Linked DNA regions of Homo sapiens: region 1 is linked to region 2. The links come from fine-mapping of genetic effects on gene expression. A gene starts in region 2. The other region holds a variant in brackets. All regions are shown on one strand. Distances are between the middles of the regions. Region 1 has its middle 45 kb from the start of FASLG. Region 2 holds the start of FASLG (Fas ligand).

Region 1 (16,066 bases), 45 kb before region 2:
AGTTATGCAAATATTCATGAACAGCGGAAGGACTTGGGCTTTTAAGGAGTTACTCACAAAACCAGCATCTGATTTTTTAAATCAATGTAATTGCTACCCACTTCCTACTCTCTTCCTTCCTTTCCCATCCTCACTCTCATTCCCCCACAACCCAGATTCACTCATCCAAGGGAACTTCCAGAGGCTTCCTGAAGATTTCCCAGGAAAAACAAAGGAATAAAGGTTCCAAAAGAGAAGTGGCAACCCATTTGAATCATTTCAAATCAAGAATGAGATGCCTTGAGACTTCACCCTGAGAGAAGCACCCAATGTGCCCACCCACCAAGTGTCGATTTTGGCCTGACTCACTGGTATTGAGAGGAAGCAATGAGTTTTCATAGTGAATTCGTGATCAGGAATAAGGAGAGCTGAGTGATGTAACTTTGTTCTACCCTTGATCTGTTGGAAGATCCAAGGCATATTTTACCCATCAGTTTTTCAATGGGTGCTCAATGACTAGCCCTCCTTACAAATTATTCTGTTCTCTCGGGAAGAAAAATTATAACCAAAACCCACACAAGGCTCAACTTATGGTACCAAAGGGTAGAAAATATTTTCTGCTTAGGAAGTAGTGGTCATGGAAAAAGAAAAAGATAAAGAAAGAAGAAAAATAAGAAAGACAGAAAGGAAAACAGGAAGGAAGGATGGAAGGAAAGAAGGATAGAAGGAAAGACGGATGGAAGGAAGGAGGGAAGGAAGGAGGGAAGGAAGGAAAGGAGGAAGGAAGGAGGGAAGAAAGGAAGGACAAAACAATCCTGAGGCTGAGGCCTAATTTCACAATTTACCTTGTGTATTTTTCTTGTATTTGTCTGTTTATCATAATGATGATTTAAGTTTTACCTTAGAGTCATAATTTCTCAATACAAATTCCACCCTTGAATAATTGATCAATGCCTCTCAGGAAGTCAGAAGGCTAAAAAGAGCATTAAATCATTCAACAGAGAGATCATAAATAACCACCATGTGTGAAGCCCTAGAATAAAGAATAAGGAATATTTTAGTGAATAAAACAAGCCCTAAAATTAAAAATCAGTTGTATTTCAATGAATAAAAGTATATTCTACTTACTAAGGTAAGTATTAATTTCTGTAATAAATTTTCTGTAATAAACTTTAAGGACTGCATGCAAGACTCTATCCTACATCAATTGACTGCAAATCAATCACTTTAATTAAGCTAAGCCCTCGCTCATGGAAATGTTTTTGGTCATTTTTCATAAGGTTAAATATGCATCTACCCCATGAGTCAGCAATTCCACTTCTAGGTGAATGCCCCCCCAAAATGAATAATATGCCCATAAAATACTTGTTGTACAAGAATAGTCATAACAAATTTATCCATAAAAGACAAAATCTGGAAATGACCCAGACGTTATCAACAGAGAATGGAGAAACAATTTTTAGTGTATTCTTACAATGGAAAACTATTCAGCAATAAAAATATATGAACTTCTGATACATGCAACAACATGAGTGAATCTTAAAGACATTACAACATAATGAAAGTAAGAAGCCAAGAATAGGAAAAACTGAGGTATAGTGACATAAGTCCAAAAATGGTTACCTTTGGTGAGGGATTAACTGGAGAAGGGCATGAGGGAACTTTCAAGGATGTTGGGAAAAGTCTGTATCTTATTACGAATGGTGGTTACTGAAAATTTAAAATATTCCTTCTTTGTTTTATGTAAATTATACCATAACTTTTAAAATAAACCTATATATAATTGTTTCTTCTAGTTCTCCTGCTCACCTTAAAAAAAAAAAGAAATGAAAACAGAGAAAAAAAGAGAAGAATAAAAGACAGGCATAGTCTTTGTAGTCCAATAAGGAGAGACAGACAATTCACAAGGAAATAAGCACACTGATAATCAAAAGTTATTGATAAATGCATGAGGTAATTGAACAGAGTGTAGTAATACAGAATAGTGGGGAGGGCTCTTGTTAGCATGACTGCGGAAGGCCTTTCTGAGATCACCCGAGAGCAAACAAGCCACATATGGAGTTTATGAGTAAAGAGAAGCATTTCAAGAAGAAGAAATAGCATGTGCAAAGACTCTGGGGTTAGAGTGTGATGGTTCCCGGAGTCAAAGGGGCCAGTGCAGTTGGAGCATAGTGGAGATGAGGATGGGGAGGTAGAAAGGGGCCAGACCACACAGGCCAGACAGGCCATGGTCAAGAGTTTAGATGTTATCCTTAGAGTAACAGAAAATTATGAAGGGGTTAATGCTGGGGAGCTGTACAATCTAGTTTATGTTTTCTAAATCATTACTGTGGCTGCTGGCATGAAAATGAACAAGAGGAGCCCATGTGCTTTGTAAATCAGGTTCTGTCATGAAAGTTATTAACCTCTTTGAGACGGGATTTAGTTTTTCGGTTGTATAAAGCAATTTTACTCTATCATTTTGATCTTAAAGTTTTGAGTGGGATGTGTAAAAGAAGGATAGTCCTCTACTAATTGAAATTGGTTAGCTTTTTTCTGATCATTTTATTTTGTTCTTCAACCTGAAGAGAAAATTACTCACATACTCTTGACAGCAGAATGGAACTTGTTTGTTAATAAAATGCAGTCCCTACTGTTGAGACTGAAGCTTCTGGAGGGACATAGAGAAAGGATAAAGAAGAAGTTGCCCCCAACCAGCCAGTCCCAGCCACTGGGTCATTTCAGAATCAATTGGTGTAAGTATGGGGAGAAGGATAAGTACAGACTTCAAAGCTAGATTGTCTTCTTCAGTATTCTGCAAGTATCTTAAAAACAAATGCATAGGTTAGCAAAAAAGAGAAAAGCAATTTTCTCATCTCTTCTCCCCAACACCTCATCTCCCAGCCTCATAAAGAGTAGACAGCTCAGCCTGCAAAGCGAACATGGAAAACACCCATCAAATCTACAGCTGAGGAGTCCCCAGAGAGAGACACAATTTCATACATCAAAGGCTGCAAACATCCTCAGGTTGTCTGATTATGCACTACTTGGAACAATGAATAATATTCCACCCCCATGGGGCTGCCTGATTAAACAAAAAGTAAAAGTTGACAAACAGTGTGGGGAAACAGTGACAAACTCAGACACCTTATATCTGCAGTGGAAATCAATGCTCAGCAAATGTGAGGTGAGGAAATCCCACACCATGGGAGAGATCAAAAGAAAAAGCTCTAGCTGTTTAGCTTGTTTTCAGCGTGTCAACTGAAGCAGGTGTCTTCTCACTCAGAAATCCGCAGAGCAGGGAGTACCCAAGGTGACCTCCACCTCCCACATCCCACTTGGAAACAAAAGTTTTACTTGAGAACAGATTTCCCCAGTATCTTTAGATCACTAAGTTGTTTTAAGAGCAATAAAATAAAAGGTTAGAAAGAACAACAATGCAGTCTTATCAAGTTATAAACAAAGAAAAAGAAAGACCATCAGAGAGAATAAGCTGTACCTACAGACACATTGGAACCTGATTTCCACACCCCCGGCCAGGAAAACATTTTTCTCAGAAGCCACCAACCGAGCGTCTTCATTTACTTGAATCTGTCAATGTCCGAGTATTCTTCGTTCACCGGGAATTAAGCCCTAGCCACAGTACTTGCCATGCTTTTGCCACTAAAGTCAATTCATGCTTTATTTATCGTTGAGATCTGTTCGCTCTCTCTCTGCTCCTCATGTGTAATTTTTAAAAATTTAAGTGTTTTGTCAAAGCAAAGAGTCTGAAGGTTAACTATGGGTTCCCACAGAATTTAGAAAATAGAAAAAGAGAATCCTGGCTCTTCTTAATTAGAGCATGAGGTTTTAACTCAGTATACATAAATTCAGGCCCATTATCTAAAAGAGAAAATAAATGTTAAGTACTGCTTGTTTATATTCAGAATCTAAACATCTCCATAAGATTCCAAAATGAAAATTTGGTGGCATTTTTGAAGTCACTAAGAAAGCCAAACATTCAGGAAGCCTTCATTTCTTTTCAGAAAAGGCAAAATAAGTCCACTTCTGGCTCTCCTAGAAAAGAGGGTTTTGCTTGCAAGTGTTTCAATTTGAATCCTTGGAAAATGAAGACAATCTGAGGGTCAGTTTTGCTCTCACCCTCATTTTCTTTCACTGTCTTTTGTTCTTTTGCCAGAGAAGCCCGCACTGAACTGTGAATGTGATGGTCAATACTTTATTTAAGAGATCTTCAATAAAGCATACTACCTAAGTGCTAGTTTTCATGGAATCTTTGGGGTCTTGGAAACCACTGCTGAATTAGCAGCAACAGCAGGCAGGATGTGCCGTGGCCAACCCATGGGGTCTTGTCACTTCTGAAGACCCTAAGCCTGGCTCCCTCTGATGTATCCGTGGCCACAGTCACTTCCCACTCACCCTTGGTGAGAAGCAAGGCAGACTCTATGCAAGTATTCTGATTACCACACACCGAAATTGACCCAAGAAGAAGCCAGCATGGTAGAAAGCAGAATGCTGTAACCCTTTGGGCTGCTAAATCAACACTTTGAAACCTGCCCTATCTCTGAACTTTCTGACACATGAAAGAATTGCAAACCTTATATTAAAGGCACATTTGAGTCTGAGAATTCTGCTACTTGCTGGCAAAATTACCCTGATCCAGGGAGTCAGCATTAGTCAGAGAATGTTTTTTGGGTGCCTTATGTGCCAGGCACAACACTGGACACTAGGTACACAGCAGTGAATAGAAGGGAATTCGCCCTTATGGTCAAGTGGAGAAGACACACATTAAATACATAAATATACATAATGAAGAAATTTCTAATGTGCAAAAGTACTACAAAGAAGAATACAGGGGCCTCTGGACATGTACAGCTAGGGGAACTTTTAGGGTCTGGTGGAGCCAGAGAAGGCCTTCTTGAAGAAAGTCGCATTTAATTTGAGCCTGGAACAATAAGTGGGAGTTATTTAAACAAAGAGTGTGTGACTTGGGGGAAGGAGGGTCAGGTAAAGGGACAGCACATGAAGGGACATTTCAGCGCATGAACTTTAATTGGCCCTAGTATTCAGGTCCACACAGAAGATGGCAGGAACAGAAATTGGGAGGCTTCCACTGAGGCTGGAGGGGTAAGAGTCAGTGTAGTGGCACAAGTAGCCAGAGGGCCACATCAGTAGGTGAGCCAAGTTAAGAAATTGGGGCTCACCTCAATGAGAAGCCCTGGAAGAGTTTTAAGCAAAGAAGTGAACAGCAGAACCAGATGTGTGATATGTGATCTTAAAAGAATACTCCAATAGCAAGGTGAAGAATGGATTCCTGGAGGTCAAGAGTAGGGCCAGAAGAGCAGGAAACCAAGTGAAAGGACAAGGATGGGAAAGAATCTTACAGGATGGAAAGCATGGAGGTGGTAGACTTGATAATGGGTTGGACAGAGGAGTAAAGGAGAGAGCGTAATCAGAAGTGATCCCTGATCCCTGGCCTCATGTGTGGAGAACAGTGCCATTTACTGAGATTCAGAGCAGGGAAGTTGGTGGGGCAGGTGGTAGGGAGGAGGAGGAGGGCCATAATTTAGTTCAAGGAATGTTCATTTTCAGGTACATATGAGACAGCTAAGTTTGCTCTCTGTCTCTCTCGAGAAATATGTTGATCAAATATTTAAAAGCAGGCTCAGAAATCTGGGGACCTTATTTTCAACACTGAATTTGGGTACTTAGTTACACAAACAACAAAGTCTCCATGACCAATACATACACCTGGCCCTTGTGGTTTTCTAGCTGGAGTAACTACCCAACATTCCCATTTAAGGTAGGGGCCCACAGTATGTTGCACTTTGCTTCTCCTTCCAGAAGATCAGTAAAAGAACCATAATACAGCACTCTGTACTTCTGAGATGACCAGAGCTGATCTTCGATGAGATCAAAAAAATAAAACCTTAAAAAAAAAGGGTTCTTAAAAAGGGTTCTATCCCACTGTCTAAGCTCTTCCATGCTCAATACAGGCTATCTGTCTTCATGAAAGGTACACCACCTGGACCATCATTGTTCTATTCCAAAGGGACATCACAGGCCATGTCAGCAATGACCTTTTATTGGCCCTAGTATTTGGATCCACACAGAGGAGAACAAAACAGCCTCAGAGAATAACACAGATGCTTCACATTTGGATCAATGAGTATTCAATGGCGTGATTAAATAAGATGTCTATATGCTCAGCTAGGGAAACCCTATTTCATTTATATTCACTATTATCTATATTTAATAACTATTTACCACTATATACAAGCAAGTAAATGTGTTGCTATATACAAGCAAGCAAATGTAATAACTATTGACCACTATATACAAACAAGCAAATGACTTGAATTGTATTTTTCTTGAAAAGGAATAATGTTTAAACAACCGTCAACCATATTAAAGTACTACAAGCTTCCTGGGAGTGTCTTTTATCTATGGCACATATTGTTTGGACTCTAACTGGGTTTTTAATTGGGAATCTAATGGGTTTATCATGTACAACATGATAATTTGAAATATGTATACATTGTGGCATGGCTAAAAGAAAACCTCTGTCTCTGTCCAATGGCTATAACTATAATGTTATAAGATGGAGTGGGCTTGTCTATTTGGTGATTTCTCCAGTGCTCCTCCCTGCTTTCATTTTCCTGTATAATCTCTTGCAATTATGGTAAAATTGTAGCAGAACATGTCAAAATGAATCATCTATCCCCCCAAATGTCTACTTACCAAAAGTAAATAAGGCTTACCTACTTGTAGCCCTTGTTCGTTATGAAAATTATTGAAACCTCAAGCAACTAAAGCCTACCTCCAGACAAGACCACAGCACGCTGCCAGGAAATGTCTCTTCAGAAGAGGGGGCTCATAGGAAAGCAGTTTTCTCTTCTTTTGTTCTAGGAGGAAAGAGACATTTGGCTATGTAGAAGGAGGGCTCAGAAAGGTAACTTATGAGGAGAATGAAAGCTCTGGAACTAGAGAATTTTTTTTGACAACTGGCTCATCCTAACCACAGATAAGCAGAGGCTGGTTTCCTGACATGAAGGCCTGGAAGGGAACTAGGAGTGCACTTGGAAGAAGCCAGAGTCAGGGACAGGAAGGAATCACTAAGAGAGTGCTATTGAGATGGGGAAGTGACAATGGAAGGAGACAAAGCCAGGGCCTTCTCTTTGTGATTTTTATTTTACACATTGTTTTCATTTTCCTTTCCTTCCCTCCCCCTTCCCCCAACACCAGCTTATTCCTGCAAACCCTCTGAGGAAACAAGTATTTTGCCTATGAATTGCCTGGGTGGGTCTGAGCTGGATAATCTAGCAAGCTCCTTCAATGTTCCTTCTCTTCATACAAGGTATAAAAGCTACAGAAGTTGAAAAGTGGTGTATGTATTGAATATGTCATTGATATATTAATTTATAAGGGCATTTATACATTTGACTGACCTACAAAAATTCCTTTCTTCTATATACAGGTTAAGTCAATAAGACACAGCCAAAGACCAAGGAGCATTTTCTTAAAAGTCCTGGCAGACAGCAGGCTGTTGATCCCTCTGACCTCTCTATCCGAGTGGTGTGCCACATCCTCTTCCTCTCTCTGCCCATCTCTGGGTGT[G/T]CCATCTCTATAAGTACCACCCACAGTGGGGAAGAGGTGAGGGTGTCTGCCTTTAAAGAATGGACAATTTCTTAGTTTTGTTTCTTCTTAGTGACTTAAAACTAAAGGTTCATTGAGTTGGGAAGTCACAACTATTGACTAGAAGGAGACCTTAAAAGGATTTATTGCCCTCATATGTTGTTTTTCCCACTCTTCCCCTATTCATGAAACATCTGCTCAGCACAGTGGCAGAAGGAGTGATTTACTGGGCCTTGCCCACACCAAGAGCATTACTGTTTATTGCTTTTGTTCACATCTGTCTGCTGGGTCATTCCCACCTATCTCTCAAGGGATATAGGTCCAGCTCTTGACCCACATCCTTTCTAGAAATGGTTTTACCATCTTGTTCCACAATGAATCCCCCGACTCCTATAATTCAGACCAGAGCTGATCTGGAACGTTTACTTGACATTTGTCATGCCCAGAACTGCCATGGTTCTAATCTTTTTGTGATCATCTAAACATTTACATAGAAGGCCTGTCCTACCAACTTGACTGTAATCTCTTTAAAGACTGAAGGGTGCAACACCCAGCCCAGGGCTGAGCATTCCTAATAAGGACCTTCAAAAATATTTAGAAGTATTAGTTTTCTGCTAATAAATAAATTTCTAATTTCCATCCTCCACTTTATTCTTCATCTTGCCTAATTGAATTGATTTCTTTTCCACTTCTCTTTCAAATTTCTTTATGTGTTTGGCTCTTTTCCCCTTAATAATATGCTATATTTTACTATAAAAGTCCTCAAGTGAGTCTGTATCTGCTCTCTCCAGTTTTTCTTCTCTTATTCTTTCTTACACTCCTTCAAATAAGATGTTTGTCCTCAAAGTCACACCAAACCTGCTCTTATCAAAGTCACCAATGACCCCTACTTTGTTGGCTCAATTCTCAGCATTTCTGAGCACTCGTCATACTTGATCTGTAAAAATCATTTGACATAGTAGACCATTCCCTACTCCTTCATACACTTTCTCCACCTGATTTCTAGGAGCCCACACTCTGGTTTTCCTCCTACCCTGTGGGTCACTTCTTTTCCCTCTCCTTTACTGGTTTCTCCTCTTCTTTCTAATCTCTTTATCCTGGTGTATGCCAAGACTCAGTCCTTGTTCCTCTGTTTTTCTCTGTCAACATTCACTTATCCAGTCTCATGACTTTCAATAGTGTTATATTCCATGACTCTCAAATTTCTACATCCAGCCCAAACCTCTCTCTTGAACTTTAGAATCATATCCAGAACTGCCTACTTTATATTTTTGAATATAAAGTGTTGAAATATAAAGTGTTGGAAACACAAGTCCCTTTAGGTTCAACTTATCCAAAACAGAACTTTTCCTCTTCTCTCTCACACGTGAACTCCTGATCTTCCCTGTCTTCATCTTGGTTAATTGTTACTTCATCCCTCCAGTCACTCAGGTCAAAAATAACCTGTGTGTGTCTGAGCTGGGTATCATCAAACCCACCCAGCATGCCTGACCTCTTTCTCTCTCACAACCCACATCCTATCAGTCAGTAAATCCTGTCACCTCTTGCCTTGAAAATATTTCCAGGATCTGACCACTTCTCACTACCTCTGCTGCTCCCACCCTGGCCCTTTTCACCCTCACCTATCTCTTGGATTGTTGCCACAGCTCTTTCCTGGTCTCCTTGCCTTTACCGTTGCCCATCCATAGTCTCTTCACAACGCAGAAGTCAGACCCTCTTAAAGCATAAGTCAGATCATATCACTCCCCTAAAGAGGATCCCTACCTCACTCAGAGTAAAACCCAAAGCCCTTACAGTGCCCAGTAAGGACGTGCCTGAATAACCCTTCACCTACCTCCTTAATTCTCTGACCTCACTTCATATGACTCTCCTCATCCCCCACTCCACTCCAGACAAACTGACCTCCTTGTGCTGCCTGGAACATGCCAGCAACTCTCCTTCCTTAGGTTCTTTATACCAGCTGTTGCCTCTGCCTGGAAACACGCATGCCCCTGAAATCTACCTGAATCATTCCCTCATCCCCTCTTAAGCCTTCACTCAAATGTCGTTTTCAGCGAGACCTACTCTGGCCTTCCTATGTAATACTACAACCGCATTCTATCTCATACTCTTATACTTTCCCTATCTTGCTCTACTTCTCTTTTTTTCTTAATCCTATCACCGTATAACATGTAACATACTTATTTGTTTCATTTATTATTTCTGTCTCCACCAGCAGCAATAAAAGCTTCATGAGGATAGGGGTCTATGTTTGCTCACCAATATGTCTCAAGTCCTTCGAATGGTGCTTTCACATGTATGGAGGAATGAGTCAGTGTGTTCAGAAACCCACTCAATCCCACAGCAATAGAGAGCAGCCTGTTGCATATGCCCCTAACTCAGAAAAGACAAATCCAAAAGGGACTTGACTATTCATCAAAGTATAAGGCTTAGGACCCCATTTTCCCTCTGTGTTCCCACGTAAGCATTGCCTGCCATCCCCTTCATACAAGTTACTGTGCAAAAAAGGAATTTACCTTGATATGTGGATTCCACTGTAGCCACAGGACTGGGAATACATGACAGAATGTTGTTATGAACTATTATTTACTTTTCTAAGAAAGAACAGATTCTCTTCCTTCAATAATTATTAAGCTCTGACTCTGTGCCAGGAATGGGGAACATGCAGAAAAGGACCCTAATCTCCTGGGGATTTAATTCTAGTATAATTGCATATCCTCATCCTCAGTCTCCACCAAGGTCTGTCTTCAGATGGCCAGCTGGTAGAATGTTATTTCCCCTGGTGGGGAAAGAAGGAAAAACCCAGGCTCTACATTACTCTTATCCTTTAAAACCTTGCTACTCAAAGTGTGGTCCCCAACTAGCAGTATTAGCCTCAACTGGAACTTACTAGAAGTGCAGTATCTCAGGTCCCATCCTAGGCCAACTGAACCAGAAACTGCATTTTAATAAGACCCAGAGATGATTCTTATAAACCAAAATGTTCATACATGTTGAGGTGCACTGCCTTGGAATTCTCTACTGAATGCACTCGCATAGGTATTACATCAATTATGTGATAAGAAAAATTTGAAGAGTAGAAAGGAGTGAACTAACTTCATGTTTTCCTTTTGCTAAAGGACAAAATATCAATTGATTACATGAATGATAACATGAACTGTAGTAAAAAAAATCTAGATTAATGAGTCTGATCACTTACAAATTTATAGAACACAGGCTGATCTGAAATAAACGTGATAATCATTTGCTGAGATTTTGCGCTGTCATACACATTCAAAAGGCAATATTTAAAATGATTTAAGTAGATATGTTTAAAAGGGTAGACTCTGAGGTTAGATTTTCTGATTTCTAAGCCTGTTACTCTATCGCCAGCTGTGTTTCCTGGGCTAATTTGCTTGGCCTCTCTTAAGTTTCAGTTTCTTCTTCTGTACAATAGGAATAATAATACTAGTACTTATTTCACAAGTTTATTGTAAGAACAAAATGAGGCAATGTTTATAAAGAAGTAAGCATAGTGTTGGTACAATATGGTTGTCTTATAGTATACTGAATTGCATATAGTAAGAATTCAGTAAATGCTGTATTACTATTATTTCAATCAACATTCAATTTATCCAACAAATATTTTACTTATAGTATACAATAATATAGAAAAATCAGGATGGAGTATGAGGAGCCTACTTAGATAAGCAGGTCAGTCAAGTCCTCTTCGGGGAGAGGAAATTTACATGGAAACCTGGAGAATGAGAAGTAGCCAGTCACATAATGAGCGATAAAAATCAAGTGGGTGAAGAGAAGAGCTGCTCAAGACGGGTCAAAATCAGGCAGGGCATCATATTCCAGAAGAGGGGTTTGGATCATTTTCATAATCATTGTGAAGCTACTGAATGCTTTTGGACAAAGGAGTGAGTTAAATAGAAATGTGTGTTGGGGCTCCAGTGGGGACAAGGGTCTAGAAAATGTTCCCAAGACATATGAAGATGTATCAACATATTGTCAGTTTCTAAGGAATTGTTACTCAAATAGTCTGACTTGAGGTTTCCTGCCAAAGTGGAAAATCCTCCTCCCATGTCCTCCCACCCTTCATTTTGCTACTCGGCCCCTTCTCATTTAACACTTCCAGAGCCCAGCCCACACGTCAGTTTCTTTGTGAAACTTGTCTTTGTGAAACTCTGGCTTATGTCCGCTCTGTTCAGGGCTCTTTTTTGGGATCACTCAGAGCACCTGGCACATGCCTCTGGAGTAGAGCCTGTAGCTCATGCAACTGTAAATAGCTGCAATTCCTTTCTCTCTGCCATACTCGTATAAGGCTAAATATACCCTTTCCAGCTTTGAAGTCTTAGCAACTATTATAAAGTGGGGACACTGGCACATAGTGAGCACTCAGTACATGTTATTTTGAATAAATGACCTAATATTTGTTTACCATTTCTTTCCTTACTACAAAAATTGTGCCTAATTCAACTTCTGCATGTCAATGGCAAACTGAGGACCCTGAAACTTGGAGTTTTCTTGAGAAAATTATCTCTTTTAGTGACAATCCCCTGGAAGATAAAGATCTCAATTTGCAATATATCTAACAAAGTGGACATGTATTTTGCTCACTTTTTTTTTTTATCTTCAGCTAAGGATTATTACCATAGGAACCATAGAAGAATTTCTATACTACCAGTGCTGTGTTCTGTTTTTCTTAGACTTTCCTTTCTGTAGCCCTCTGCGGTGCTTCTCATCTACAGAGGGGAAACTGAAGCACAGGAAAAGCCGGCCACACAATGAGTCAGTGATCAGACAAGGCTTCCTGTGAGAGAATTTCTCCGGAGGCATCTCTGAGGCAGACACACTCACCCCTGACACTACCTCACCTTCCATGCTCTCTCTCTCTTATGTATCCTCCCAGGTACAGCTTTAACTCTTCCCTCATCCTATCAGTCCTGGCCTGTGTTCTTGGCCACCCCAGAAAACCCAGTTACCTCACCTCTGACCCCTCATCTGGACCAAACCTCCTATGCTGTCCCCTGTCCTTATCCTCCCTCAGAACTAGTCACTCTTCCTTGTCACCATTGCCTTCCTGCCACCTTCCCCCATCTGGGCACAGATACCTTGAAGGCCTGCTCTTTGAAACAAATAAAGAACCTCAAGTTGACAAAGAACCCGAAGGATCACCAAATACCACTCCAAAGGTATTTTCCAGAGTACCTTCTGGATCAACCAATTTGTGCTAATGGGAGGTTAAAGGAAAGGAGGAAAGGCCTAAACTGGAAGGAGCCAAAATAAAGTACCCTTTCAACTTTCAGAGTGATATAACTGCTGTATCTGCTTAGTCAAGACCAGCATGCTAGCATGTTCACTGGTAGAGTTGGAATTCATCTCTACCAAAACTTTTCTTGGGCCTGAGAGGACAGGAGAGAAGAAATTCCCTTACTGATGAATCTGTAACATACATCCTTGCCAGAGAGTATTCAGGTTTAGGCAACCTAAAACTTAAACAATTTTGGTGGCATCTTTTAGAAAAAAGAATATTACAAATTACAAATACAAAATTAGGTACCAATGTGAGCATTTATTTAGAATAAGAAGAGAAATCATAACAAATTGCACATTTTTAAAAAGCTGATGAATACCATTTATGGTATCATCACAAAATTCACGGCCTTCCAGGCCCAGAGTAGTGAGGAGCTCTGAAGTTTGTTTCACTGGCATATGAAACTCTGACATCAACTCTGGAGTTCTTTTTCTCTTTCATTTCCTGCCTATATTTTTTGAAAGGTTATCTGTCCTCATCTCCCCTGTTTTGTCACCACTGAATCACTCCCTGTATGTAGGCACTTAGTTCCAGTCCACATCACCTCAATGAAACAATTGTCTCCAATGTTCCCAGTGGTTCCTGGTCCCCAAATCAGAGCCCTCATGCTCCTATCTCTCATTAGCCGTAGGCACTCATCACCATGTTTTCCTTCCAAAATTTAATCTGCCTTGGCATGCAAGAGCCTATATTGTCACAATTTTTCTATGGCATGTGTTAATCTTTCTTTTTCATTGGTTTTACATCCTCTTTCCATTCACCAATCAGGTATAATCCAAGGCTCTATCCTCAACCTTTTTTGCTCTTGTCACTCCACATGTTTCTCCATCACCTCTCAAATCTTCAAACATACAGGTAATTCCCCAATTGCCTCTCTGGCCCTGACATCTCTCCTGTGTGTCAGTCCTACCAATTTCACAGAACACCTCCCTGTTAAAGTACCCCTGGACCTCAAACTCAGTGTGCTCAGAACCAAACCAACTGCACTCACTCCTAAACTGGATATGGCCCTCACTACATACTGAAACTCACTGTTTCTAACGTTAAACACTTCATTCTTCCCCCTAATTAGCTGCTTATCAGAAACTCCTCCTTTCTGTTAAAGGTTTGACCTAAGTGGATGATACTCAGTCATAATCTCAGCATAGGAAATGACACTGTCTTTCTTTTGTCTTTTCTGCCTAAAGAAATTCACTCGGGTTTCTTCCTCATGAGAACAGGAAGTTGCTCTGAAGGGCTGCCTGAGAGGAAGAGCGTCGGCAACCCACTAGGTAAGGTCTGGTTTAAATTTAATTCTCTGTTTGTCTCCAAGACAGCCCACCACAAGACTTAACTCAGCCTAATATTCAGTCAATAGAGATGATGATTGCAAAGTCAGAAGGCCTCCTTGGCAGCATCCTAGAGACTCTTACTTCCTAAAGCTGGAAGGCAAAAAAAAACTCTGAGGATCAGTTCTAGGTCTTAATGACAGGTTAGTAGACTCCAGGGAAATTTAAATCCTCAACTTTGGCAAGTCTGCTTTGTCAGAAGAAGGACCCTAGTTGAAAAACAATGGTACCTTGAGACTTGGAAATAGGACATTTGGGTCAATATACTCAAAAACCTTGAAACACCAAATTCATTTGACCTTTCTGGATGAGCAGAACTATCCTACTCTTCCCTATTAAAGGCTAACACTTCTCCTTTACATGAAGATGACACAGCAGCCACTGTCTTGAAAAACAATATTTTCAAAGGTCAGAATTTACTCCCACCTCCCTTTCTGGCCACCTGGCCAATAACTAGGCTCATTCACAACATAGTATGTCACAGTGGGGAAAAGCAAACTCCACCACCACCACCACAACCATCCCTCAGTGAACACAATAAATCCAAACCAATTTTGCATCCTAGGGGAAATGGCAGGGGTGGTAGTCCTTATCATATTTCCATTTAATTTACCAGTCTAACCCATAAAGAAACTCTATGGATCCTGGAGGATGCCCATGGACTGCTGCAAACTCCATCTGTACTGGCTCTAAGTGCACTTGCTGTGACAGATGTGATGTCTTTGTTAGAATAGATTAGCACAGCCTCAGCTACATGTGCCATTGACCTAGCCAATGAGTTCCTTTACATCCTTTCAAGACAATAGATCAAAAGCAGCCCACATTCATATGGAAGGGACAATAGTCTACATTTTTGGTCTTCCCCTAGGGTTGTATTATCCTCTTCCTCTGGCATAATATAGTCTGAAGGGGCTTGGACTGTCTGAACATTCCAAAGAACATAATATTAGTATCTTCTATAGATAACACCATGTTAATCAGCCAATGAGCAAGATGTGGCAAATATTTTGGAGACCTTTGTAGGATGTGTGTACTCCAGAGGGTAGGAAAATATGCTGGGAAGATTCAGGGGCCTGTCACATCAGTCAAGATTGTAGGGGTCCGGTTGTCTGGGGAACAAATTACACAACTCCTTTACCAGAATCTTCCTCTCCCCTTGCCCTTTTATCCTTCCACCACAATTCATGCAGACCTCCAACCACCCTATTCTTTAGCTTATGAGTGGCACCATAAACTAGAGATCCAAAACAGAACTCATTATCTTCCCCAGAAACCCTCCTCCTCTTCTATTTTACATCTCTTGATGAATGTCTTCATCACCCGCCCAACTGCCCTGCCTGGAATCTGGGCATTCACTCAGGCTTTATCTCTCCCTTTGCCCCTATGTTCAGTTAGTCACTGAGTCCTAAACATTTCTCATGTCTGGTTTCTCATCTTCTCTGCTGCACTTACCCCAATTCTAGCCATAAGCATCCCTTTCCTGGACTGACACTAGAAACAAATATTATTTGAGAAGAATACCAACTTTTGGAAACCTGTTGGTCTGTTGACTTGAGTTTAACTTTCATTTGGCTATTCTCCACTATGTTAATTTGGACAAGTGAATTAACCTCTTTAAGCCTCAGTTTCTTCATTTGTAAAATAAGGTTGGCATGAAGACAAAATGAAACAAATGTGTAAAGTGCCTGGCAGAGGAACGAGTTTATAAGTGACAGCAATGGGCAGAATTGGTAGTAGTCATAGTACAAGAGCCTTCCTTACTGATCTCACTGTCTTTAATGACAAGCCTCTGATTTATATTGCCTAAATGATTATTTCAACATGTAGATCTGATTATGTTGCCGTG
Region 2 (16,066 bases):
TATTGGTAATGGAAACTCTGGGAGGTGAAGAGGAAAGAGAATATATAGAGAGAAGGAAGGCCTAGCAAAGGCAGAAAGATTTGATTCATAGTTCTTCTCACTCCAGTAAATTATTCTTAAAAGTGGTCTGATATCATAATGAATGAAGAAATCAAGGAGGAAAGAAATAATAAGCAAAAAATTCAAATATTAGTAAATTCTAAAAATTATTTGTATCCTAACATATACTTTTTATTACATGTTTTCATTTCACAAAAATGCACATCTACATAAATATTTATTATATTATAGGAAAACATCATTAGTAGCTGACAATCAATGATTTTTAAGCACTATTAGAGTTGATTGTCAGGAAGCATTCAAAATCTTGACCAAATGCAACCCATATTTTCCTAATATGTACTTCACAATATCTACATTCTCTCTTTAGTCATACACACACACACACACACACACACACACACACCCCTACAATTGCACTGGAAATACACATGCTGTGTTAGGAATGAAATGAGTCCCCAAAACATCTCTCTTGCTTATCTGTTAGTTTCACCGATGGCTCAGGATATGCATTTAGAAGTGAAGATGCTGCCAGTGGGGCATTGGCCTCTTTCAGCCTCTTTAGCTTATTATGCAAGCCTCTAGTCTTCCTTTTCCATCCCTTAAATCCTCAGGTCACAACCATGTATCTGAAAGACAGTCCCCCTTGAGGTAGCAAGGCCCACCTTGAGAGGTGAGTTAAAAGGTGTCCTTTTCAATCTGCCTAAATACTCTCAGGCACTAAGATGAGTGTAGAACACCTGGTAGCTGCTTTTTCATGCTTCTCCCTCTTCACATGGCAGCCCAGAGTTCTATGTTCTTCCGTCATATTCCTCCATTTGTCTGGCTCATAAACATTAGGTGAGTTGAGGAGCTACAGACATTTTGAACCCTGTGGTCTCAAGGTCCACTTGGTTCATGTCTTCTTACTTGACCTCAAATGCATGTAAGAAGACCCTCACTGAATACAACATTCTCGGTGCCTGTAACAAAGAATCATAATGGAAAGAATCCCAAAGTGCTTCTCTTAGAGCTTATATAAGCCGAAAAACGTCTGAGATTCCTCAAAATTGACCAGAGAGAGCTCAGATACGTTGACATATAAATGATCAGCACTGGTAAGATTGAACACTGCCCCCAGGTAGCTGCTGCGGGCCCACATCTGCCCAGTAGTGCAGTAGCTCATCATCTTCCCCTCCATCATCACCAGATCCTGGGGATACTTAGAGTTCCTCATGTAGACCTTGTGGCTCAGGGGCAGGTTGTTGCAAGATTGACCCCGGAAGTATACTTTGGAATATACAAAGTACAGCCCAGTTTCATTGATCACAAGGCCACCCTTCTTATACTTCACTCCAGAAAGCAGGACAATTCCATAGGTGTCTTCCCATTCCAGAGGCATGGACCTTGAGTTGGACTTGCCTGAAATAAATCCAAAAGGAGCTTTCAACAAGGAATAGTCATGCATCCAACAAACTAAGTTTCTAAGGCAAAACTGTGGGCCCTTCCTTCAACAAATGTTTCACCCAGAATGACAGCTGGTATAGAACTGGCTGAGGGGTCAGAACTTGATCCATCACAGAATTTCCTCAACAACGTTGTCCTATTTTGTCATCCACACAATTGGAACAATAGTATATACCCGTAATCCATTGCAGTAAGAAATTATTGAGAAAATATTTGCTCTCTGGAACAAAGATTTTACTATCTTCAGAACTAGCACCAAATCTGCTAGGCTTTGAAGTCCTTTCCTGAAGGAAAAAGCCAAATCCAAGGAACTCTAAAGTTCTAAAGTTGGGAAGGATCTTAGGGACCATCTGGTCCATCTTCTCACCTGCAGTAAGAATTATTCAGCCCCTCAATTTGGGGTACAGTTCCCTTTTCTTTGTATCCCCACAACATCATGAACATAACCTAAATCTCTGAAGTACTGAAATTATCATAAGTGCCTGTCTTTCCCTATTAGATGTCAAGCTCCCTGGGGGCAAGAGCCATGTGCTACTCATCTTCACATCCCCAAATTGGCACACAGCAGGTATTCAGTAAGTGTCTGCTGATGTGACCGGATCATTCTATAATTTCTGCCTAAATAATTCCAGGGACAATAGCCTACCACTTTCTGTGATATTTATTCCATTATTTATGTAGTTTATAATGGGAGTGCCCATACCATATCATTTCACTCCACTTTACAGGCACATATTGAAACTCTACAAGTGCCAGGATTGAGTCTCCCTTCTCACTCCTATTTATACTCTTGGACAAAGCAGAGTGAAGCTCTTCCAGAAAACCAAGAAAGCACTGACTAAAATAAGTCCTCATTCCTCACCTTCTCATCTCTCACCTCTTGGATCTGTGCCCCCAATCCCCCAAGGGACTTTGGAATGACTGAAAAGAATGAGCTTCTTATGGGCAGGGGTCATGTCATAATCAGCTCCAGGTCTCCAATTTAGAAGAGGGCCTTGCCCAGAGAATAGGGGATCAAAGTGTGTTCATAAGACTGACTCGACAAGAAAAGTGTTAGTATTATTGGGTTCAAATACTGTCTCCAGGAAGTAACAACTCTCTAGAGCCTGGTAATGGAAACCAGGCAGCCATTTTGCCTTTTGCCAAAAGCTTTCCCAAATCTCACCTGTACCTTCCAGATACAGACCTGTTAAATGGGCCACTTTCCTCAGCTCCTTTTTTTCAGGGGGTGGACTGGGGTGGCCTGTATCATAGAGAGAGGAAAAATATATGTTAAAATGAAATAGCAACTATTATTTTGGTGGGAATTTAAATCCAATCATTTTAAAAAAAAGATTTTAAAACCGTAAATGGCAACAGTCTAACATATACTAATCATGTAGGTCTGAACTGCAGGATTCATAGTAGTCTATATTTCAGAAACAAAGAGGTAAAAAAATAAACCAAATTAAGATTGACATATGTATAAATTATAATGTTACAATAAAACATAATTAATATAAACATTTATTCATAAAGAGCTGTCATGTCAGTTATTGCATTTAGAACTCACCACAACCCTTTGAGGTAGGTATTATTGTCCCACCTTATCGATTGCAAAATGAGCTTAGAAGTTGGGTGACTAATCCAAGAAGACCCAGCTAGTCAGCATCACAGATGGGACCACACCCTGCTCTCCTGACGCCAATTCCAGGGCTCTGTCCACTCTGATTCTCTTGTTCCAAAGACTTACAGGACAGAGGCTGAAGAAGACTACTGATCTGTCTGCGTGTCACCAGATCTTCCCCCAGTGACATTTTACAATCTGCCCCAAATTAATTATCTTAAGACCTCTGACAATCACCTCATATCACTGAGTCCTCAAACACCTTTAATTGCTCCTCCCCGAAGATGCCGTCGTATACAAGTATCCCCATCACACAATCCCAGCCCATCTGTCCAGCCTTATCTCCTTACTCCCACTGAGCATTGCCACACAACGGGAGTTCTGTGGCCTACACATACCCCCACTTTCCTTCCTCTGTGCCTTTGTTCATGCCATGTCTTCTGCCCGTAATGTTCTTTCAAGCAGATTTCTGTGTCAAATTCCTAAACATCCCATAAGGACTACCTATTACCGCTTTCTTTGGGAAACCCTCTCAAGCCTTTTTTGATCAAATATGATCTGCCCCTCTTTTGAAATCTAGGATCCCTCTGTCTTCCCCTCTCTTGTCATTTCTGACTCCTCTTGTCTCTGGGGTAACTACATAAATTATCTTATTCCCCTCAAATAACGACAAGTTCCTTACGATACGTTGAGTTCACCAGAGAAGCCCAGTTTCTAACACAGGGCATGTTACTAGCAAATGTTGGACAAATTAAATGGAAGGATAGACAATAGTTCTCAAAACAGACACTATTTCTCTGACTTCAACTGTTTCAGACAAGATAGACAGCTGCCACTTAGCTAATGAATTCAGCTAACTGAGACTTCAATAAATATTCACAGGAGATGCTTGTCTATGTCAGGTTCGTGATTAGCCTGTAAAACTCACATATGGTATGAGAATGGCCCAATCCACAGAGAACATTAGCTGAGCAATCATGACCTCTCTAGTCATCCAAGACAACCCACCATGTAGGAGGTGTTAGCGAACAGGAAAGGCAAAACTGAGTCTCCTCTGCATTCCTACACCGCAAACCACCCGAGCAACTAATCTGGCACTCAGCCACGCACCGGCAGGAAACGGAACAGAGAACCACATGTTGCATGTCTTTATATCCCTCACAGAGCCTAGTACAACGTTATTCTTACAGAACATGCTCACTAAGAATATCTGCTGTACCTATACTGGAATAAATAAATTGCAAGGATATCCTAGACACTGGTTATGAGTGCTTCCTGCCCCAGGGTTTTTGCATGTGCCGTTCCCAGCGCTGAAATGCCCGCCCCCAGCCCCACCCCACTCCACAGCACATGCACACAGCCGTTCACTCATCGGGCTTCTGACCCCCAAGGTGTTAGCGTAAACAACACCTCCTTAAAGAAGATTCTCAGGTTGTACTTAGTACAACTTTGGAATTGCATGGTCTGTTTGCTTGCTTTTGTTTAGCTTCTTCCCCCTGCTAAAAGCTCCATAAGGACAGGCCCCCTGGGCTGGCTCATCCTCAATCAGCATCCAACACCCAACATCTAGCCTCACACATGTGAATGAATAAAAGATTTAATTAGTTAACCGGAAAAAAATGGAAAATGTAAAAAGGAGCAAATTAGAAAGTATAAATAATCTATAATAGTATCTCCCAGAGAAAATCACTGTTAGTATGTCAGTGTGTAAAACTTTCCAGTTCCTAAGAATATAAAAATGTGCATACATGGTTACATAGTCAGTATGAAACTAAACATACCCTTTTGTAACTTGTCTTTTTATCTAACAATACAGAGTGCACAATCCCCAAAGCATTAAATGTCCTTCTGATACATCACTTTTAGTTGCTGCTTATTATGTGCTTGTCTGAATACACCATAATGTATATAACTAATCTCGTATGAGGCATTCAAGTTTCTTCTGAATTATTTATTATAAATAGGCTCATAAGGAAGTAATGAACATCCTTATATATAAATCTTCGGGCACATCTCTGATTATTTTCTTAAGATAAATTCTTAGCGATAGGATTACAACGTAAACTACTAGTTACAAGCTTTTGCTATGTATTTCTAAAGCGCTCTTCAAAAAAAGTTATAGCAATTTACATGTATACTGGCTGAAACTAATGTTTGCACAGGCACTTTTCTCTCAAATCTTTGTCAGTCTGGGTTTTTTTTTAATCTTTATTAATTTGATGAAAATTGGTATTCCCTATTTTTAATTTGCATCTCTTTTCTTATTAGTAAAGTTACTGATTTGATTTCCATGTGATGATTTACCAATTTCTGGTTTATTTGGGTTGATCTAGAGAACATAATTGCTTACTGGGGTAGATGGATCTGACTCACCTGATCATTTGACTTTTAATCACTAAATTGACTCCAGAGAGTGGGTGAAAGATGAATAATTAGATACCTATCAGACCAGGCACATTCCACAGATTTTCAAAATGATCTTATTTCAGACGTCCTCCAGAGGCTTTACTTTTCTATCAAATATTTCCACTCTGCTTGTGTACATATGGACTTTCTAACATTTAAGGATTAGGACACAGAAGCAGGGGCCAGAGCATCCCAACAGTGGCTCATATAAGAACTTAACAGTCTAGGATAGTAGACAGGCGACTGGGTCATGTGCAGTAGCCACATCCGGAGAAACTGGAACTTGCTTCACTTAATAGATGGCCAGTGCTGCCTTCTTCTTTATTCTGAGTTTCTAAGGATGAGATCTACCTATAGTCTTTGCAGAGGTATCCTGCTTTTCATCTATTTCTTATTCCATGCTCACTACAGAGAGACAGGAGTTTCCCTCCTTCATGAGGCACCAGTCCAGTACTGGAAAGCCCTGTAGGTGACAAGGCATCAAGAGCCTGTGTTCCTTCTAGCCCCAATGGCATACCAGTGGTCTTGGGCATATTCACCTAATCCATCTGGTATTTTGTTTCTCTTCCAAAAAATGAAATGGCTGGACTAGATATATTCTAAGCTTCCTTCCACCTCTAAAAATTCAATGAATCTCATTGTAAATCTAAATCTAAAATTTCAATGAATCTTAGACTAGTGAAGCACACTGTAAAATCTATCTGTACAGAGCTTGCACAACTATGCCCTGAAATTTCATGAGATCAGTGTTCAACCTATCATCTTCTTGCCCTAGCTCCCATACAAAGGATTTTCCTTTGTGATCAAGGGTACCTCATGACTGCCTCTGTGGGTGAAGCTGAACATCCTTTGAATGATGGCTGAAGTCTTCCCTTAAGCTTCTCAGTGACTTCAAGAAAAACCATTCTAATGTGGGGAATTGATTATCCATGTTTTAAAAGCTTACATCCTATAAAACATATTGTAAATAAAGCTTCAATGTAATCTCTTTAGGGCATTTAAAAGAGGAAAGGACGTTTCTCAGAAACATCTGTCTCTGCCTTCATTTCGCCTTCTCTTCCCAGGAGTTACAGCCACTGGCGTGTGTGCCAGGACCAGGATGTCTGTGGAAGGGGACAGGCCTGGAGCCACTTCTCAGGGGGCAAAGGTCCAGGGTTGTATATGTGTGTCTCTTTCCAAAGTCAAGTGGAAGTGATTTTGAATTGTGTGCAGTGCTCAGCTATATTGATTGTGAGCAATTCAATTCACTTCACATTTTTAAAGCAGCTCAAGGAATCATAGACCAGAGATTCTGAATTAGCCAGAATTCCTCTTATAGTGTACAGAAACCAAAGTGTGGGACAGAATTTAAGGCATTCCATTAACATAGTTCTGTGCTGAGGATCATCTTTGGGAACTCAATGTACATGCGAAAAAAGACTCACCTATTTGCTTCTCCAAAGATGATGCTGTGTGCATCTGGCTGGTAGACTAGTAAAACAGAAAGAGAAAAGATGTATAATAAAAATAAAATTCTTTAAGCAAAAGAGGCAGAATCGTCAAATAAACCAAGCCCTGGAAAGAGAATCCAAATACCTCAGAAGTTCTGCTAACTTGGGCTTTGGCCAAGCAATTTTGCCTCACTGTCCCTCAGTTTTGTGATTTGGAATCGTACCAATTTTCAAGATTTAGTTTGGTCATCTGAACAAATTTACTTCCAAGCAAAACTTAAAAGTTTTGTTTGTTTGTTTTTTACTCCTTAAATCAATAGGTATGAGGCAGTAAGTGGTTCAACAGACTGAGTTGACAACTGAGGAAAGACAAACTGTTGGGCTCTGATTCTTTACAAAGTAAAAAATATTCCCTTCACCCCTATGAGCCTCCATTTCTCTGTCTATAGAATAGAATAACTAGAACAACCCATTTCTAAGAAAAAAAAAAAAAGGATTGAAAAGCACTTTGCAAGCCAGGCAGTGGGCCCTCCATCCCCTTATGCCTGGTGCCTCCAGGGCACAGCAGTCTGCCGGCAGGCTTACCTCTCGGAGTTCTGCCAGCTCCTTCTGTAGGTGGAAGAGCTGAAACATCCCCAGGCCCAATCCTACCAAGGCAACCAGAACCATGAAAAACATCACAAGGAGACACAGGCCTGTGCTGTGGTTCCCTCTCTTCTTCAGGGGTGGCAGCGGTAGTGGAGGCAGTGGTGGCGGCGGCGGCGGAGGTGGTAGTGGTGGCGGTGGCGGTGGTGGTGGTGGCCTCCTTTGACCAGGCCTTCTGGGCACAGAGGTTGGACAGGGAAGAACTGTGCCTGGAGGGGCCCAGGGAGAGCTGGCACTGCTGTCCACCCAGTAGATCTGGGGATATGGGTAATTGAAGGGCTGCTGCATGGCAGCTGGTGAGTCAGGCCAGCCCCAGCAAACGGTTTTACTTCTTCTCAGTCCTGTAGAGGCTGAGGTGTCAAGGACGGGACCCTGTTGCTGACTGCTCAAGAGGAGGCAAGCTGGATCTCTCTTATAGAGTTTCCATAGCTAAGGGAAACACCTCTGTCTTTCTCTTTCTCTATCTCTCTCTCTCTGATTCTGCTTCTCAAAGAAACACCCACTCACTTTGCAGCTGAAGCTGAGAAGCCTCAAGAAGCTCAGAGCAAACCCCTGGAAGTTTCCGCCCACAATTTTCTGATAACAGCCTTCAAGGCCTCAGTTGCTGTCGCTGTGCTACCCAAACAGGTTAGTAGGCTATGCTCACCTTCCTGGGATCCTGCAGAGCAGGTCAGCATGGGGGTATAGCCCTGTTAGTGTGAACTGCTCCCAGCTACAGGAGAATGGTCAGTGGGGCTATAATTTTATGAATTATAATTGCATGCTTTTTTATACATTATAATTGTATAATTTTAAGAATTCTACCATATACACAACCAAAAAACTATTTAAAAATCCCAAAATAACTCTAACAAAAATTGTTCAGAACCGTATTTTTTAAACTATAAAAATTTTACTGAAAATGGCTCTGAGGGGAGAGACCATGGAGTCATGGCCAGAGAAGTCACTCCCACATTTTAGTTTTTGCAGGAGGAAAACATCTGTTGCCATCATCTCTTCCCCACACACAACTACCATTTACCCTGACCTGCCGATCACCATAATTTACAGGTTAAAAACCTGCTACACCCACTTTAGAAATTAGATCAGAGGCTGCAAACCAGTGGAACCCACAGAGCTGCTTTGTATTTCGCAATGTTTTCATTTTCATTGTTTGCCCAGTTTATTTATTTACTTATTTATTTAAATAGAGACAGAGTCTCACTCTGTCACCCAGGCTGGAGTGCAGTGGTGCTATCGTAGTTAACTGCAGCCTCAAACTCCTGGGCTCAAGCAATCCTCTTGCCTTGGCCTCCTGAGTAGCTGGGATTATAGGCATAAGTCACTACACCTGACTAATTTATTCTTTTTTTTTTTTGTACAGATGGGGACTTGCTATGTTGCCCAGGCTTGTCTCAAACTCCTAGCTTCAAGACATCCTCCTGCCTCAGTTTCCCAAAGTGCTGGAATTACAGGCATGAGCCACTGCACTGAGCCCAACTGACCACTTTTAATATCAACATTAAAAATATTTTAAAATATATATATTAAATACACATTAAAATACATATTTCTATTCTGTTTTGAAATATCAGAATATCAGACACCCTCGAGGCCATCTCTGCAAACCCAATCAGTGGGAAGTATGTAGCAGCTGCCCCTGAGAATGAGAGACAGGAGTTCTGGGTCACCCAGCCTCCACCACTGGCCTGTGTCTCACACACCACCTCACTATCTGAAAGGCCTGCCTGGTCCCTGCCAACATTTCTGTGTGCTGCCCCTGTTATGGTTGCCAGATGAAATACATGGTGCCCAGTTAAATTTGAATTTCAGATAAATAATACATTATTTTTAGGACAAGTAGGTCTTAAACATGTCCAAACATGGAATATACTAAACAATTATTCATCATATATCTGACATTCAAATCTAACTCTGTGTCCTATTTCTTTGTTTTGCTTTTTTTTTTTTTTTTTTTTTTTTGGTAGTTGTTGTTGTTGTTTAAAGCTGGCCTCTCTACTTGGGCTCATCTCACCATTTCCTCTGGCCTCACATACCATTTATATGCCAATAACTTCCAAGTAGTTAGCTTCAGTCCTAATCATTCTCCAATAGAAGCCAAATAAATCCCCCATAAATCAAAATTTTTCATTTTTTTCATGTTTATTACTTTTCAAATTTCGTTAGTTTTTATATCATGCTTTGGGATTTCCATTACTATCATTCAGGCCCACTCACCTGTACCACACCAACCCCAAGGGTACTATTTCTCTGATACATTCTGCCCATCCCACCCCATCCCCAACCCTGTACAACCCCTTTCTCCTGAGGCCACTCTTTCTGGTGGCAACTTCATCTCCTTTCTTTTCCTCTCCCCCAACGTTTAACTGGTCACCCAGGACTGTCGCTTTTACCTGAGACCTGTTCCTTACCCTCCCCTCAGTGTACTGCCCCCCTGCCCCATCCTCGCTACTCCCATTTTTCTTACTGCTGTTGCCTGGGGTCAGACTTTATCTCTCACTTGAAATACTGCAATAATGCCCTAACAGGTGCCCTGCCACCGACCTTTCCCAAGCCCAAATCACCCAGTAAAATGCTATAAGAAAAATGCTTTTTAAAAAACAAACCTAATGATCTCACTTCCCTGCCTTCTGTTGGAAGGTTTGATTCAGGAGCAAGGCAAGCTTCTTACCGTTACCCAAGGCTCTTTAGCGTCAGCTCCTACTGCCTCCTTACCAGGCACTCCTGCTCACATCCCACTCTCCACTCTTAAACAGTGCAAGGGATGAGACTAGCAAGACAGTGCACGAGTTAACGAGCTTTTGAACTCACATGTGACTTTATTCATCGTTATGAATTCAACTAACTTTAAATTTCATAATCAGAAATTGTAATTTTAAGAATTCTACCATATAGACAACAAAAAAACTATTTGAAAATCCCAAAATAACTGTAAGAAAAATTGTCCAGAACCATATATATGTATTTTTTATTTTTTTGAGATTGAGTCTTACTCTGTCGCCAGGCTGGCACGCAATGGCGTGATCTCAGCTCACTGCAACATCTGCCTCCTGGGTTCAAGTGATTCTCCTGCCTTAGCCTCCCGAGTAGCTGGGACTACAGGCACATGCCACCACACACAGCTAATTTTTGTATTTTTAGTAGAGATGGGGTTTCACCATGTTGGCCAGGATGGTCTCGATCTCTTGACCTCGTGATCTGCCCGCCTCAGCCTCCCAAAGTGCTGGGATTACAGGCGTGAGCCACCGTGCATGGCCCATATCTTTTAAATTATAAAAATTCTACTGAAAATGTCAAAGATTCAAATAAGTGGGAAAAATACACCATATCCTGGATGGGGAGGTGGTGTTGCATGATGGTTGGGAGTGGGTGGTTCTGGAGTTAAACTATGTGACTTCCAATCCCAGCTCTTCTGCTCATTAACTGTGTGAACTGGACAGGTCACCTTCCCTCCTCGGTGCCACAGTTTTCTCATTTATAAAAATAAGCATGATCATAATAGTACTTGCTTTACGGGGGTTGGGAGGATTAAATGAGTCAAAGCATTTGATACACTTAGAATAGTCCCTAGCACCAAGGTAGGCACTCAAAAGATGTTGTAAATTTAGTGAATCTTTCCCCAAATAATTCATCTGTAGACTTAATATAATCGACCTTCTTCCATTAAGGACAAACAAAGTGGAGAGAGGGAGAGAGGTTGCAGGGGAAAGTGCAAAGTCCACGTTTGACATCCAGTATCTCTCTGAGATCCTACCCTGAACTGATGAGCCTCTCCATTTCAGACTAGTACCTCTCGATTTTTCTATCTCAAACTCCCACAGGAACTTCCAGCACTGTCCAATAAGAATTATGCTGTATTTTTACATCTCCTTCTTCCCTGCTGCTTCTGTTGATTCATTCTGCAACAGAAGAAATTAGAAGACCATACCTGCCCCCAACTCTCCTGCTATCCTCCAGGCATAGAGAGAATCTGAACTGAAATAGAGTCAAAGAGAGCATCTTTAAACACTCATATTGATCTTCAGTAATGCCACCAAACATCACAGGTTGGCAAAGTCATGGAAAAATAAAACAACCCTATGTACAATAACAGGGACCCATTATGTTTTGGGGTATTTCCAAACCTTATTAATAAGGAGAAATAATTGTTACAAGTAGATCTTAGTTCTGTGAATGCTAAAGAAAATAATATTTGCCTTTGAGAGATGAACTTAATAAATAAATCAAAGGCTGGTGGCTCCCACAGGCTGGGAATTTAAATGGAAGAGCTTTGCTAAGTCTTGCTCTACCCTCCCCAATTACACCTGCAGAATCTCTGATTCTGGAACCAGAGGTTCCTTGAGGATAGACAAAGGAGAAATATTCAGAGCTGACAATCTCTTTGAGGAGGAGGGGGGGGCTTACGAGCCATAGAGATTCAAAGGGACCTGGGTGACACTTGGGAGCAAATTTATATGGAGGACAAAATAGGAGAAACCACCTTATACTAGTTGTTATGATTTTTTAAAGTATCTTCTCATTAGATGAAAATTCAAGTTATCTTCAATTGTGGTCCCTCCGGCATTGTAATTTCCTTCAGAAATTGTCTTAACCATCTAGAAAAAGGATTTAAGTATGCTGCTACACCTAGGATGTTAGTCACATGGAGGTTAAAAGGACAGGGGCATAAAGAGAACAAAGTTCCTATTTCTTTCTTCCATCCAGTGTTCTACCAGGGAAGTGGACTCAGTGGATTGTAACTCAGAGCTCCAGAGGTGACTCAGCAGTCGCAGAGAGTGATGCATAAGGAAAGTAGCTGCTATGAACCTTCACAAACCTAGAGGAGACTTCCAAGGGCATCTGCCAAGTTAGTAAGAAAACCAAATCTGATTTTCCCCAGAGGTGAGCAAAGACCCCAGTACACTCCTGGCTGAAACTTGTTTATTCACAGACATGCACCTATATATTTAATTTCACTAAGTGATTTCTGGATGCTCATCTGAGTGGCTGAATGCCTTGACACCACCACCAATTATGAAGAACTATTTTATCCCATGTCCTCAGCTCTACTTGGTATTATCCATCTTTTAATTTTTGCCAAGCATTATGACTATAAAGTTATATATCATTGTCTATTGATCTTCCTTTTTCTGATCTCTTGTGAGGTTAAACATCTGATCATATGCTTGTTGGCATTCAAGTTTTCCTTTTTGTATATATTTCCTGTTCACATGCCATGCCCATTTTTAAACTGGGTTTCTTACCTTTTTTTGTGCTGATTTGCAGGATCTCCTTGTACTTAATATTATAGATATAATCCATAGTTGCACAGGTTTTGTATTTAGACTTTAATCCATCTGGAGTCCACCTTTGTGAGATGAGACAGGAGTCTATTTTTCTCCATGTATGATCTAATTTTTCCACACATCCCATCTTTTCTTCCACTGAATTGGCATATTTATCACATATCAAGTTTCCACATATAGTCGAGTCTTTTTCTGAACTCTTATTTCTATTTCATTGATCTGTTTATCTATTCTGATACCAGGGTCACATTGTTTCTGTAATTGCAGCTTTGTGGAATGTCTTGAGAGATGGTATGGCAAAATCCCCTCCTTTTTGTTTTTCTCTTTTTAAAATCGACTCAACTTTGGGCATATTTAATTTCATTTTTTCATATGTATATGTATATATATGAAATATATATGGAAAAATATATATGTGTATATATGTATATGTATATGAAAAAACTATCATGTTCCTAAAACATCCTACTGAACCATTAAATGTAATTGCAATAATTTGGAGGAACTGTTATTTTTACCCTATCCGTAACAGTTTTTCATATTTTTATGACCTTTAAAATTTTTCTCCAGAGTAGTCTCATACACCCTTTCTTAGATGAATTGCTTGATGCTTTGTAATTTTGTTGTGGTTACAAATGGGGTCTTATTTTCTGTGGTATTTTCAGATGCTGTGGTAGGTAGTCTCTAAGATGATGCCAATAATTGCCCACTTCCTGGTATTTATGCACTTCTATTATACCCTCTCCTTGAGAGTGGCCTAGACTTAACTGACTCAATTCTAGCTAATAGAATACAGCAGAAATGATGGGATTTCTCCTCTAAGATTAAACTGCAAAAAGAACTACAGTTTTCATCTCTTCCTCCCCTCCCCTATTCTAGGGGAAGCAAACTTCCAGATTGTGCGTAGACCAATAGAGAGGCCCATGTCGCAAAGAAGTAATTTTTCTGGCGAACATCCAGCAAGGACCTGAAGCCTCCAACAGCAACGTGAGTGAGTCACATGAGTGGATTCTGCTCCAGTTGAGCCTGGAGATGATTGCAGCCCAACCTCTCTCATAGGTTAGCCCAAGTCACCCAGCAAAACCAAGCTTGGATTCCTGACCCACAGAAATTGTGAGATAATAAATATTTTTTATTTCAAATCATTATGCTTTGGGGTAAATTTTTATGCAGCAATAGACACCTAATAACAGACGGTTATTGTTGGTTTAGATAAATACTCTTTATTTTGTAATAAATAATATTGATTCTTGCAAACTTGTGGATCTCTCTTTTTACTTTTGATAGTGTGTCTGTTGATTCTGTTTTTTAATAGAGATCTATATTATCAGTGGAAAAGGTGACCATTTTTTATCTTTTTTTCAATCCTTATACCTCATTCTTTTTCTTTTCATATTGTCCCAGACCTCAAGAACTCTTTAGAACAGTACCCGTGATTTTGGACCTGTTTGTCTTCATCCTACTCTTGAAGAGTCTGCATCTAAAGTTTCTCATAATAAGTGTGAGTATATTTTCCAAAGGTATTTGGATTTTTGTCTGTTGCCTCTGTCACTAAGAGAATTTCCCTATTGTATCAATAGGATCTCATCTGCAAACAGCTGAAACACTCAAATTAGAATAACTTAAGAAGGACTTAATAAAAGGGATTGTTTACAAACACAAAGGTGGGAAACCAAAAGGGATCCTATGATGCTCTAGAGCTTGTAGGACCAGGGTTGTTGACTTCCAGTTAAGAATTGCCAGCCTGTCTAAGGTGACCACACAAGGAGGAGCCACAATCAGTACCCTGTTCCACCACCTCCTTCTCTTCTGCTGGTACTCCACATTGGGCAAACTCTACTGAAGTCCAGACAGCAAGGAAACCCACTGACATGGTCCATACAGGTTAAGTTCTCAGGAGAGAGAGCAAAATGTAGTCTGTATAATGTTGACCATTTGAAACTTATTGAGACTTTTCTTGCAGCTAATACTCTATTTTTGTGAGAGTGTCTCTTATTTGAAAAAAAATCTATTTTCAATTTGCTATAAATCCATGTATTTGGTATAATTTACATATATATATCAGTTGAGGCTTTTTAATTATATCATTCAAGTGTGCTGTATCTTTGCTTGACATTTCAGTCTCTAAAATGAATATATTAAAATTTCCAAGTGCAATTAATAATATATTTATTTCTTTATATATTTGTCATTTGATCCCTTGTTTTGAGCTATCTTGTTAGATACATATATGTTCCTAATTATTTTACTTTCACTCCTATGAGTGTATTTTGCCCAATTTTTAGCCTTAGAATATTTCCTTACCTTGGATTCTGTTCTGCCTGATACTAAAATTGCTACTGTGGTTATACTAGGGCTTATATATTAATACCATCTTATTTCATGGTTATTTATCAGGTTCCTCCTGCCCTCTTCCTTCCTTTTACTAGCTAGACCAAATTGTTTTTCTGCTGGTAGAAAATTTGAATATTCTTATTTTTATTCTTCTGGTGGTTACTTTTAATTTATCAAAAAAATGGGCTCTTGTCTATTTTTCCACCAATCTCTTAAATTTATAAATATCTATATAGTTCTCTGAACAGCATTAGCACTTTAGTATAACCACTCCATTCCCAGCCACTACCTCCATCATGTTGGTGGAGTGCCATGTCGATAGCACCTAAAATTTAAATTCTGGATTGTGTTGTATTTTTATGTTTCCTTTGTCTTCATACTTAAATGATGGTTTACTTGAATATACATTTCCAAATATGACATACTTTTTTCCCAAAAAATGGCAAACATAACTTTTTGTCTTCTTGTATCCAGGGCTGTTATTGAGAAGTTGGTGGTCAATCTAACTCTCATTCCTTTTCAGGTGATTTGCCATTTTTCTCCAGAAGCTTTCAGAATGTTCTCTTTCTATAATTAATTACACTAATGAAATTATTAGTGTAATAATGTAATTATTGGTGTAATTTGTTATGAGAATGATTATGCAATTATGATTATGTAACTAATTATGGCAATGTGGGAAACAGAAATGTGCAGAACCATAGCTCTGGCACCAAGGGTATCTGACACTCTTCCACTCTGAGCTGTTGTATGCATCTACCCACATGCACACCCAGACCCAAGCACCACCCTTCTCCCCTCAAGAGTTTCTCAGGTCTATGTCAGTTTCTCAGGCCCATCAAGACAATTCTTGT

The links. PIP is the estimated chance that this variant, and not a neighbour inherited with it, causes the effect.
Region 1: its variant is fine-mapped to the expression of FASLG in whole blood (TOPMed, PIP above 0.99). The same link has a PIP of 0.9 or more in blood mononuclear cells.

What each region holds. Positions count from the first base shown.
Region 1 is chr1:172,695,689-172,711,754 of GRCh38, reverse strand. No RefSeq gene overlaps it. Among named protein-coding and RNA genes, the nearest start is that of FASLG, 45 kb to the right of the region's middle. The variant G/T (reference allele first, on the strand shown) is at 7,573.
Region 2 is chr1:172,651,017-172,667,082 of GRCh38, reverse strand. FASLG (Fas ligand) reads right to left here and starts at 7,980. Exons shown (of 4, transcript NM_000639.3): 1 at 7,534-7,980; 2 at 6,943-6,988; 3 at 2,693-2,749; 4 at 207-1,461. The coding sequence starts at 7,881. The coding sequence ends at 1,067.